Linked DNA regions of Homo sapiens: region 1 is linked to region 2. Evidence: fine-mapped expression QTL. A gene starts in region 2. The other region holds a variant in brackets. All regions are shown on one strand. Distances are between the middles of the regions. Region 1 overlaps UBR1 (ubiquitin protein ligase E3 component n-recognin 1). Region 2 holds the start of MAPDA (N6-Methyl-AMP deaminase).

What was found. PIP is the estimated chance that this variant, and not a neighbour inherited with it, causes the effect. A credible set is the group of variants that fine-mapping cannot tell apart.
Region 1: its variant is the best candidate, but not a certain one, in a credible set for the expression of MAPDA in fibroblasts (GTEx, PIP 0.87).

The regions. Positions count from the first base shown.
Region 1 is chr15:43,091,925-43,096,315 of GRCh38, reverse strand. The region is part of intron 1 of UBR1 (ubiquitin protein ligase E3 component n-recognin 1); the gene reads left to right. Among named protein-coding and RNA genes, the nearest start is that of UBR1, 12 kb to the left of the region's middle. The variant T/C (reference allele first, on the strand shown) is at 2,605.
Region 2 is chr15:43,328,912-43,333,294 of GRCh38, reverse strand. It overlaps MAPDA (N6-Methyl-AMP deaminase), which reads right to left and starts at 2,623. Exons shown (of 13, transcript NM_001324366.2): 1 at 2,436-2,623; 2 at 1,295-1,395. LCMT2 (leucine carboxyl methyltransferase 2) reads left to right here and starts at 2,722. Exons shown (of 1, transcript NM_014793.5): 1 at 2,722-4,383. The coding sequence starts at 2,806. RefSeq lists enhancers at 2,582-2,631, 1,864-2,814.

The sequences.
Region 1 (4,391 bases), 240 kb after region 2:
TGTAATCCCAGCTACTCGGGAGACTGAGGCAGGAGAATTGCTTCAATCCGGCAGGCGGAGATTGCAGTGAGCCCAGATCGTGCCACTGCACTCCAGTCTGAGGGATAGAGTGAGACTCTGTCTCAGAAAAAAAAAAAAAAAGAGAGAAATTGCCATAGCCACCCCCACGTTTAGCAATCACCAACCTAATCAGTCAGCCATTAATATTGAGGGAAGATCCCCCTATCAGCAAAAAGATGACAACTTTCTAAAGACTCAGATGATCATTAGCATTTTTTAGCAGTATTTTAACATTAAGTACATTTTTAAAGACTTCATACTATTGCACTCTTAGTATAGTGTAGTGTAAACATAACTTTCATATGCATTGGGAAACCAAAAAAATTTGTGTGACTCACTTTATGTTCACTCTATTGTGGTAGTCTTAAACTGAACCCGAAATGTCTCTGAGGTGTGCCTGTATCTTGCCCATCCTTTCTTTGGATGCTGACTTTGAGGGTTACCTCGGAGTTCCCTTGCTGCCACTTTATCCATTTCTGTAAAGGTATTAAGCATATGCTGTGCTCTGTGAAATAATTTTCCTTAAGCTTTTAACCCCTTGCCTCAGATGACCTAACACAAAATATTAAGACCTCTAATGCCAGGTGATTTACTATGACCGCCTACATGTTCTTTCAAGATATTTTCAGTTAACATGCCTCCTCTTGAATAAACCATAGTTGATGAGCTTAGTTTTTTTAAAGCATTTGATGCAGCCTTTTTTTTTTTTTTTTAATGTTGTCACACTCTAATTCTAATCTGAGTGCTTATGGAAATATGCTGTGGTAAGTAAACGTTACTGATAAGACTCCAGTAGAGTTAGTGCACTTTCCTAACTGCCCACTTGCTGCCCAGGAATGACACAGACCCTGTCCAGAATGGAGTCTACTGTTACTCACTTGAATATAATTCTCTTTCTAATAGTTTACTTAATGCCACTCTTCAGAACAAAGTCTGTTTGACTTGTTTAGAGGAGTGAAGCTGTAACTACTTAATGTCTTTATGGACCACCTTTTAAAATGCCTTTGAAGTTTTGGTATTTATGGGTAAGCCAGAAATGACTTTAGCCACTGGAGGGAAAGTCTGTTAATTTATCAATTTTTTAAAAATACACACATGTTCTGCCTTGTAATTTAAGAGAGGATTTTAGTTGGTTTGCAGATATATATTCCATACAGCAGAAAGAGAATATGAAATAGATACCTCAGAGTTTATGAAAGCAGATTTTACTTATCCAGATACTTCAAGGAAAGCCTAAAAAATTGGGGCATGACTTATGACAGAGATGAAAAAGAGAATACAACAAATAGGACAAAGAGAATTTGTCCCTTAGGAGGGACAAAATGTTTTCAAAAACCAAATTCTGACAGCATGCTTATACGTTATCTCAACAGGAAAGAAAAGAGAGTGGACTTGTCATGTGGCTCTATATTTGACTCTGGCTTATTTTATCAATGCCATAAAGGCATAGAAGACTTATCATATTTACAGACAGCACAAGGCTGGTAGGGATAACAAGTAAAGGATAAATCCCATATAGGCTGAATATTGTGTCAAAACTAACTTAATTGTGATGAAAGTAAAGCCTTATATCTAGGTTCATTTGGTATAGGACTAGGTCTCTTACATGTGATTGATCTAAGGGTTTTAGTTGTCTGCACTTTAACCAAGTCATGTGATGTAGCAGCCAAAGAATGCTTTGCTTGCAGGAGCTAGGAAAAAGAGGATTTAAAATATATATAAAAAAGAAAATAAAAAAGAAAAAGAAATAGAAAAAAATTTAAAAAGAAAAAAAGAATGTGAGAATGGATGTTTTTGTTGTTTGTTTGTTTGTTTGCTTTTTTTTTTGAGATGGAGTTTCACTCTGTCTTCCAGGCTGGAGTGTGGTGGCACGATCTCAGCTCACTGCAACCTCTGCCTCCCAGGTTCAAGCGATTCTCCTGCCTCAGCCTCCCGAGCTGGGACTACAGGCGTGCACCACCACACCCAGCTAATTTTTTTGTATTTTTAGTAGAGATGAGGTTTCATCATGTCGGCCAGGCTGGTCTCAAACTCCTGACCTCAAGTAATCCGCCCGCCTCAGCCTCCCAAAGTGTTGGGATTACAGCTGAGCCACCACGCCTTTTCAGAATGTGATCTTTTGAAGCAGTTTAGTGCTCAGGATAAGGAAGGTAATAAATAGTCCTATTCCTCTTTATGGAAGCATGCTGTGCAGTTTCATAAGGGTAATCAAGTTGGAGAGTGGTCAGGATACCATGTCTTTAGGGCTGGCCAAATTTCTTTATTCTCTTTTTTTCAGTTTAGCCATGAAATGAAGAGACTAGAAATGAGAGACGTAATAGTTATCTTCATTTATTTGAAAAGACTGATGAAAAAGCAGAGTGAATTATATTGGTTTATTTCAGTAACAGGATAAAAGTTACAGGAAAGTAGATTTTAGCTTAGTTATGAGCTTGCCTTTTTGGTTTTTTTTTTTTTTTTTTTTTGGAGACGGAGCCTCACTCTGTTCCCCAGGCTGAATGAAGTGCGGTGGCGCGATCAGGGCTTGCTGCAGCCTCAACCTCC[T/C]GGGCTCAGGTGATCCTCCCACTCAGGTACCCAGCCTGAGTACCTGGGACTACAGGCTCATGCTACCATGCCCAGCTAATTTTTGTGTTTTTTTGTAGAGATGGGGTTTTACCATGTTGCCTACGCTGGTCTTGAACTTCTGGGCTCCAGTGATCTGCCTGCCTTGGCCTCCCAAAGGGCTAGGGTTATAGGCATGAGCCATTGTGCCTGGTTGCTGTAAACCTTTGAGTCTGTAGAATAATATTAGAAGAAAACATTGTATAATCAAAGATTTTTGGTGCCTAGAGATGCTCTAATTATTACTAATCCATAGTGGCTGTGAAAAATGGTAGCGCCTCCAGGTTTTGTTACCACTTTAAAAAGAAGAATTAGAAAAACAATTACTGGGCTCTGAAGGCTCTGTAGATGTCTAGCAGTTGTTTAAGGAAGGTCAAATTGTGGTTTAAACAAAACTAATCTACTTAAGTAAGTTCCTTTTTCAGAATGATGTTCCCAAACAGGCATCTAAGCTGTTGGGTCAGAGTTGAAAACATATCTCTAGTCTCCTTGGGGATGAGGGAAATGTTTGGAATGTTTGGGAATTTTAATGTTGAGAACTTGTTAAGAACTTGTTTTTTACAGAATAGTCAATTAGGAAAGCTTTCCCTTAATTTCAAACAGTTATTTTTTTTTTCCTGGACTTGGTACTTAAAAATTCTTAATTTTATTCCTGTTGAAAATGGGGGAAAATTTTAAAAACAACCAACCAAAGGCAAAAAATCAAACCTATTTTAGTTGAAAAAAATTTTCCACAGTTTGGCAATAATGGAAAACATTTTTGTGAAGAGTGTAACTGAACTTTATTTCCCATAAAAATTCTAGGCTGGGCGCGGTGGCTCACGCCTGTAATCCCAGCACTTTGGGAGGCCAAGGCAGGCGGATCACAAGGTCAAGAGATTGAGACCATCCTGGCCAACATGGTGAAACCCCGTTTCTACTAAAAATACAAAAATTAGCTGGTTGGGGTGGCACGCGCCCGTAGTCCCAGCTACTTGGGAGGCTGAGGCAGGAGAATCGCTTGAACCCAGGGGGCAGAGGTTGCAGTGAGCCGAGATCGTGCCACTGCATTCCAGCCTGGTGACAGAGCAAGACTCTGTCTTAGAAAAAAAAAATTCTATACACAAAGTTATAGAAGGCTTAATGTTATCAAAATTTGCTTTGTTTTCTCTGGCAAGAAATGTGTAGCATTTAGCAATTAACTGATAACTTTTATTGTGTACTTGTGCTAGGCCTATAGGATACAGGGATTTGAAGAGCAAAGTTCCTCTCCTCAGGGAGCTTACATTCTAATTGAAGAGGCTAGATGTACACATTTAAAGGTAATTAATGATATCAGCCAGTGGTATAAGTACAGAATGAGTACTGCCTTCAAATACTGTATTAGAATTAACAGAAGAAAAATTTTCTTGGGCTGATCAGTGAAGGATTCGCTAAGGTTGGCCTTGAGCTGGGCCTTGAGGGATAAATAAGTTGGTGTGGGGGTGGAGGGACAGAGAGCTAGTAGTGAGACTGATGGAGAGGGTATTTAAGGCATCAGCACCCAGACATTCTGCCTAAATCAGCCAAGAGTATAATTTGTTTTGTTTTTTGAGATGGGGTCTCACTGTGTTGCCCAGGCTGGAGTGCAGTGGCATGATCTCCGCTCACTGACCTCTCCCTCTCTGACTCAAGCAATTCTCCCACCTCAGCCTCCCGAATAGCTGGGACCACAGGTATGTGCCACCGCATCTGGCTAATTTTTTTTTTTT
Region 2 (4,383 bases):
ACAGGCATGCACCACAATGCCCATCTAATTTTATATAAAATTTTTTTTGTAGAGACGGGGTCTCACCATGTTGCCCAGGCTGGTCTCAAACTCCTGGGCTCAAGTGATCCACCAGCCTGAGCTGGGATTACAGGAGCGAGCCACTGCGCCCGGCCAGATTTTCAATTTTACTCCAGGATCCTGACCTTAATTTGTGCCCCATTCAAACCATCCTCCAGACTGACCTTTAACTAGCTGTGAGTAAATTTACTGACCCACTGGCTACAATGTTAACCTATGGAAATTAAAAAGCAACTAAGCAATCATAATCTTTACACATTAAAAAAAATTGTTGTTCCTTGCCTAAAACATGGATACCAACAACAGCATGCCATGACAAATTTAACTTTTCTGGACTGGTTTTGCTCTGGGACGGAAGGCAACAAACACTGGGATAAGATCCACGTTAGTAATACTTCATCAATATTAGAGCAGGGCCAGAAGCAAGTATCCTGTCTCCCAGGGAACTTTTTTCATGCTCCCACCTACTCCCCCAAAAGGGAACTCAGAATAAAAAAAAATTTGTTACTGTTTATTATGCACTTACCATGAGCCAGGCACTGTGGTGTCTTAGATAGTTATTTTGTTTAAATCCTCACAACAACCCCTGAGATATTATTATCCCCATTTTATATAAGAATAAACTGAGATTTAAACAATGGCCCCTCCTCCCCCGGCCTAAATCATAAGGCATCGAAATCAGAAATTTTACTCCATTCTCTTTCTTCTTTAATTACTTTTCTTGATCTGGTCTTTGCAAAACAAGTAGTATTTTTGACATAACACCTACATTTTAGGAACCTGTCATTAAATAAATTTGTTTCTATGGTGCTACGTATTTTTCAAAGTCCTTCAACTTTTTTTTTTTTTCTATTTGCCCCTCAATCAACCCTGAGATACCTCACGAAGCAGTACTTAATCTCATTTTAGAGGTGAGGATCCACTGACCCAGCAGGCATAGGTGAGCCCTTCTTCTAATCCCTTCAGAAGCAATTCTCAAACTGCTCAAATGTTCCATCAGATCTGAATGCCTTACACTAAACTGACAACTCTGTCACCAACTTTACAGAGAAAACAGAAGCCATCAGGTGCAAATTCCTTCTTTTTCTCTCTGCCCTACCTCACACCTGAGCTTATGATTATCCATAATCTTTTTTTTACCCCATCAGGAGTCACAGATAAAGGATTCATTCTCCTATCCCCACAACTAATACGTGCCCAGGATCCCATTTCTATCTATTCCAAGTTACTCTACCAGTGAGTTGTCTTCTCATTTTTCTGTTCCTTCAACCTCTCCCTCTCCACTAGCTGGTTTCCCTCACAGGACCAACACGCATGTGCAGTATTTGCTTCCACCTGAAAACAAAACAAAAGACTCTTTTATCCCACAATATTCTTTAGCCACTGCCCTGACCCTTTTTTCCTTCTGAGTTAAGCTCCTCGAAAGTATAATAATTTAGACTGGATACCTCCTTTAACTCACCTCCTATTCACTGAAACATGGATTCTGCCCTTATTGCTCCACAGAAACTGCTCTCCCTAAGGCCATTAATGAGCTTTTAAACACCAAATCTAAATGTCACTTTTCAATTACCGAATCTTTATCCTGATCCAAACCTTTTCTTTCTTATTTCATTTTGTTCCACAAGAAAACATTGGAAAATACGAAACTTTTTCTTGACTCCAGTATCCAAATCTGCTGGACTCCAAAACTCACACTCTTAACCATTATGCAGTACCACCTGTAGTTAACCATAAAGTTATCTGATTTCCTTTTCTATTTCAGCCAGTCAGTCACCAAATCCCAGTGAACAAATGATAAATTTCCTAAATGTCTCTGGAAGTGGTTTCCTATGGATGACTCCCAGACACCCAATTTAGAAACTTTATGATTATTCTGAAGTCTAACCTGGATTTACTCCTTAAAAACAAAGCTCAGAACATATCACAGGGAACAATCACCTCTCTTCAGTGACTCCCCTTTCTGGGGACATATTCAACACTACTTTAAAATCCACAGAATTCTCCAAGGCGGTGTGATGAGAAAGAGAGGCTGAGTGGTTTATTCACCGTCAGTCTAACATAGGGCTGGGAATACAAGGGAATCAACAGTCTACTATCTGTGGGGAAACGTCTTCTTGTTAGGTGTCTATAAATTATTTGTAAAGGTCGGTTTCTTCAGTTTGCACCCTGGCCTTAGTGACTTGTTTTCAAGTTTTAAATGGGGTTCTCTTTTGCAACTGTGAGAGCATTAAATAAATCAGCAACTATTAGCACCCAAGGAAGCTAACTAATCCTTGCCTACTGAAGGTCCGTGGTGCCGACCCTTCTTGGCTCCTACCAGACCCTTCCTTGGCGGTCCAAGGAAGCCAAGTCGTCAGTCCCCACAGACTCACCTCTTAGAGATTTCTCAACTACAAGGACTTAGGCAAGGTTTCCCTTTTGACTGGAAGGCTTGTAGAAACGTGACAACCCGCCTTCCCTAACACTCATGTCACAGCGGTAGCGGACCGTATTCTGGGACAAATGGAACTCACGACATTCCAAAGAAAGGTCAGCCGCAAGCGAACTTAGCACTGGCTACACCCTCCTCAATTCTGGTTGGCGAGATGCGCTCTTCCCGGAAGTGACGCACAAGTGCCGGCGGAAGGGGAAGTCCAGGAGCATGGGTGGTTTTTTTCCCCCTACCGAGGTCCGTGAGGTGTGTGCTAACCAAGGGGCGGCTCACAACCGTGACAGACTGCCATTCCTGAGTCTCTTCTGGCCATGGGCCCCCGGAGCCGTGAGCGTCGGGCAGGCGCGGTACAGAACACCAACGACAGCAGCGCCCTCAGCAAGCGTTCCCTGGCCGCGCGCGGGTACGTGCAGGACCCCTTTGCCGCGTTGCTGGTTCCGGGCGCGGCGCGCCGCGCACCGCTCATTCACCGAGGCTACTACGTCCGCGCACGCGCCGTGAGGCACTGCGTGCGCGCTTTTTTGGAGCAGATTGGCGCGCCCCAGGCCGCGCTTCGCGCGCAGATCTTGTCTCTCGGCGCTGGCTTCGACTCGCTCTATTTTCGCTTAAAAACCGCGGGCCGCCTGGCCCGGGCTGCAGTCTGGGAGGTGGATTTTCCGGACGTGGCGCGGCGCAAAGCAGAAAGGATTGGAGAGACGCCAGAGCTGTGCGCGTTAACCGGGCCTTTCGAGAGGGGGGAGCCCGCGTCCGCGCTGTGCTTTGAGAGCGCAGACTACTGCATCCTGGGTCTGGACTTGCGGCAGCTCCAGCGAGTGGAGGAGGCCCTGGGCGCCGCGGGGCTCGACGCAGCCTCACCCACTCTGCTCCTGGCCGAGGCGGTGCTGACCTACCTCGAGCCGGAGAGTGCCGCGGCCCTCATCGCCTGGGCAGCCCAGCGTTTTCCTAATGCCCTTTTCGTGGTCTATGAGCAGATGAGGCCTCAAGACGCCTTTGGCCAGTTCATGCTGCAACATTTTCGGCAGCTAAACTCCCCCCTGCATGGCCTGGAGCGTTTTCCTGACGTGGAGGCGCAGCGGCGCCGCTTCCTTCAAGCTGGCTGGACCGCCTGCGGTGCCGTGGACATGAATGAATTCTATCACTGCTTTCTTCCCGCAGAAGAACGCCGGCGGGTGGAAAATATTGAACCCTTTGACGAATTTGAGGAGTGGCATCTGAAGTGCGCCCATTATTTCATTCTGGCAGCTTCTAGGGGAGACACCCTCTCCCACACCCTAGTGTTTCCATCCTCAGAGGCATTTCCTCGCGTAAATCCTGCTTCGCCTTCAGGGGTATTCCCTGCCAGCGTAGTCAGTAGCGAGGGCCAGGTCCCAAACCTGAAGAGATATGGCCACGCCTCTGTCTTCTTGAGCCCAGACGTTATTCTCAGTGCAGGAGGATTTGGAGAGCAGGAGGGGCGGCACTGCCGAGTGAGCCAGTTTCACTTGCTCTCAAGAGATTGTGACTCTGAATGGAAAGGCAGCCAAATAGGCAGTTGTGGGACTGGAGTTCAGTGGGATGGACGCCTTTATCACACCATGACAAGACTCTCAGAGAGTCGGGTTCTGGTTCTGGGAGGGAGACTGTCCCCAGTAAGTCCAGCCTTGGGGGTTCTCCAGCTTCATTTTTTTAAGAGTGAGGATAATAACACTGAGGACCTGAAAGTGACAATAACAAAGGCTGGCCGAAAGGATGATTCCACTTTGTGTTGTTGGCGGCATTCAACAACAGAAGTGTCCTGTCAGAATCAGGAATATTTGTTTGTGTATGGGGGTCGAAGCGTGGTGGAACCTGTACTAAGTGACTGGCATTTCCTCCATGTAGGGACAATGGCTTGGGTCAGGATCCCAGTG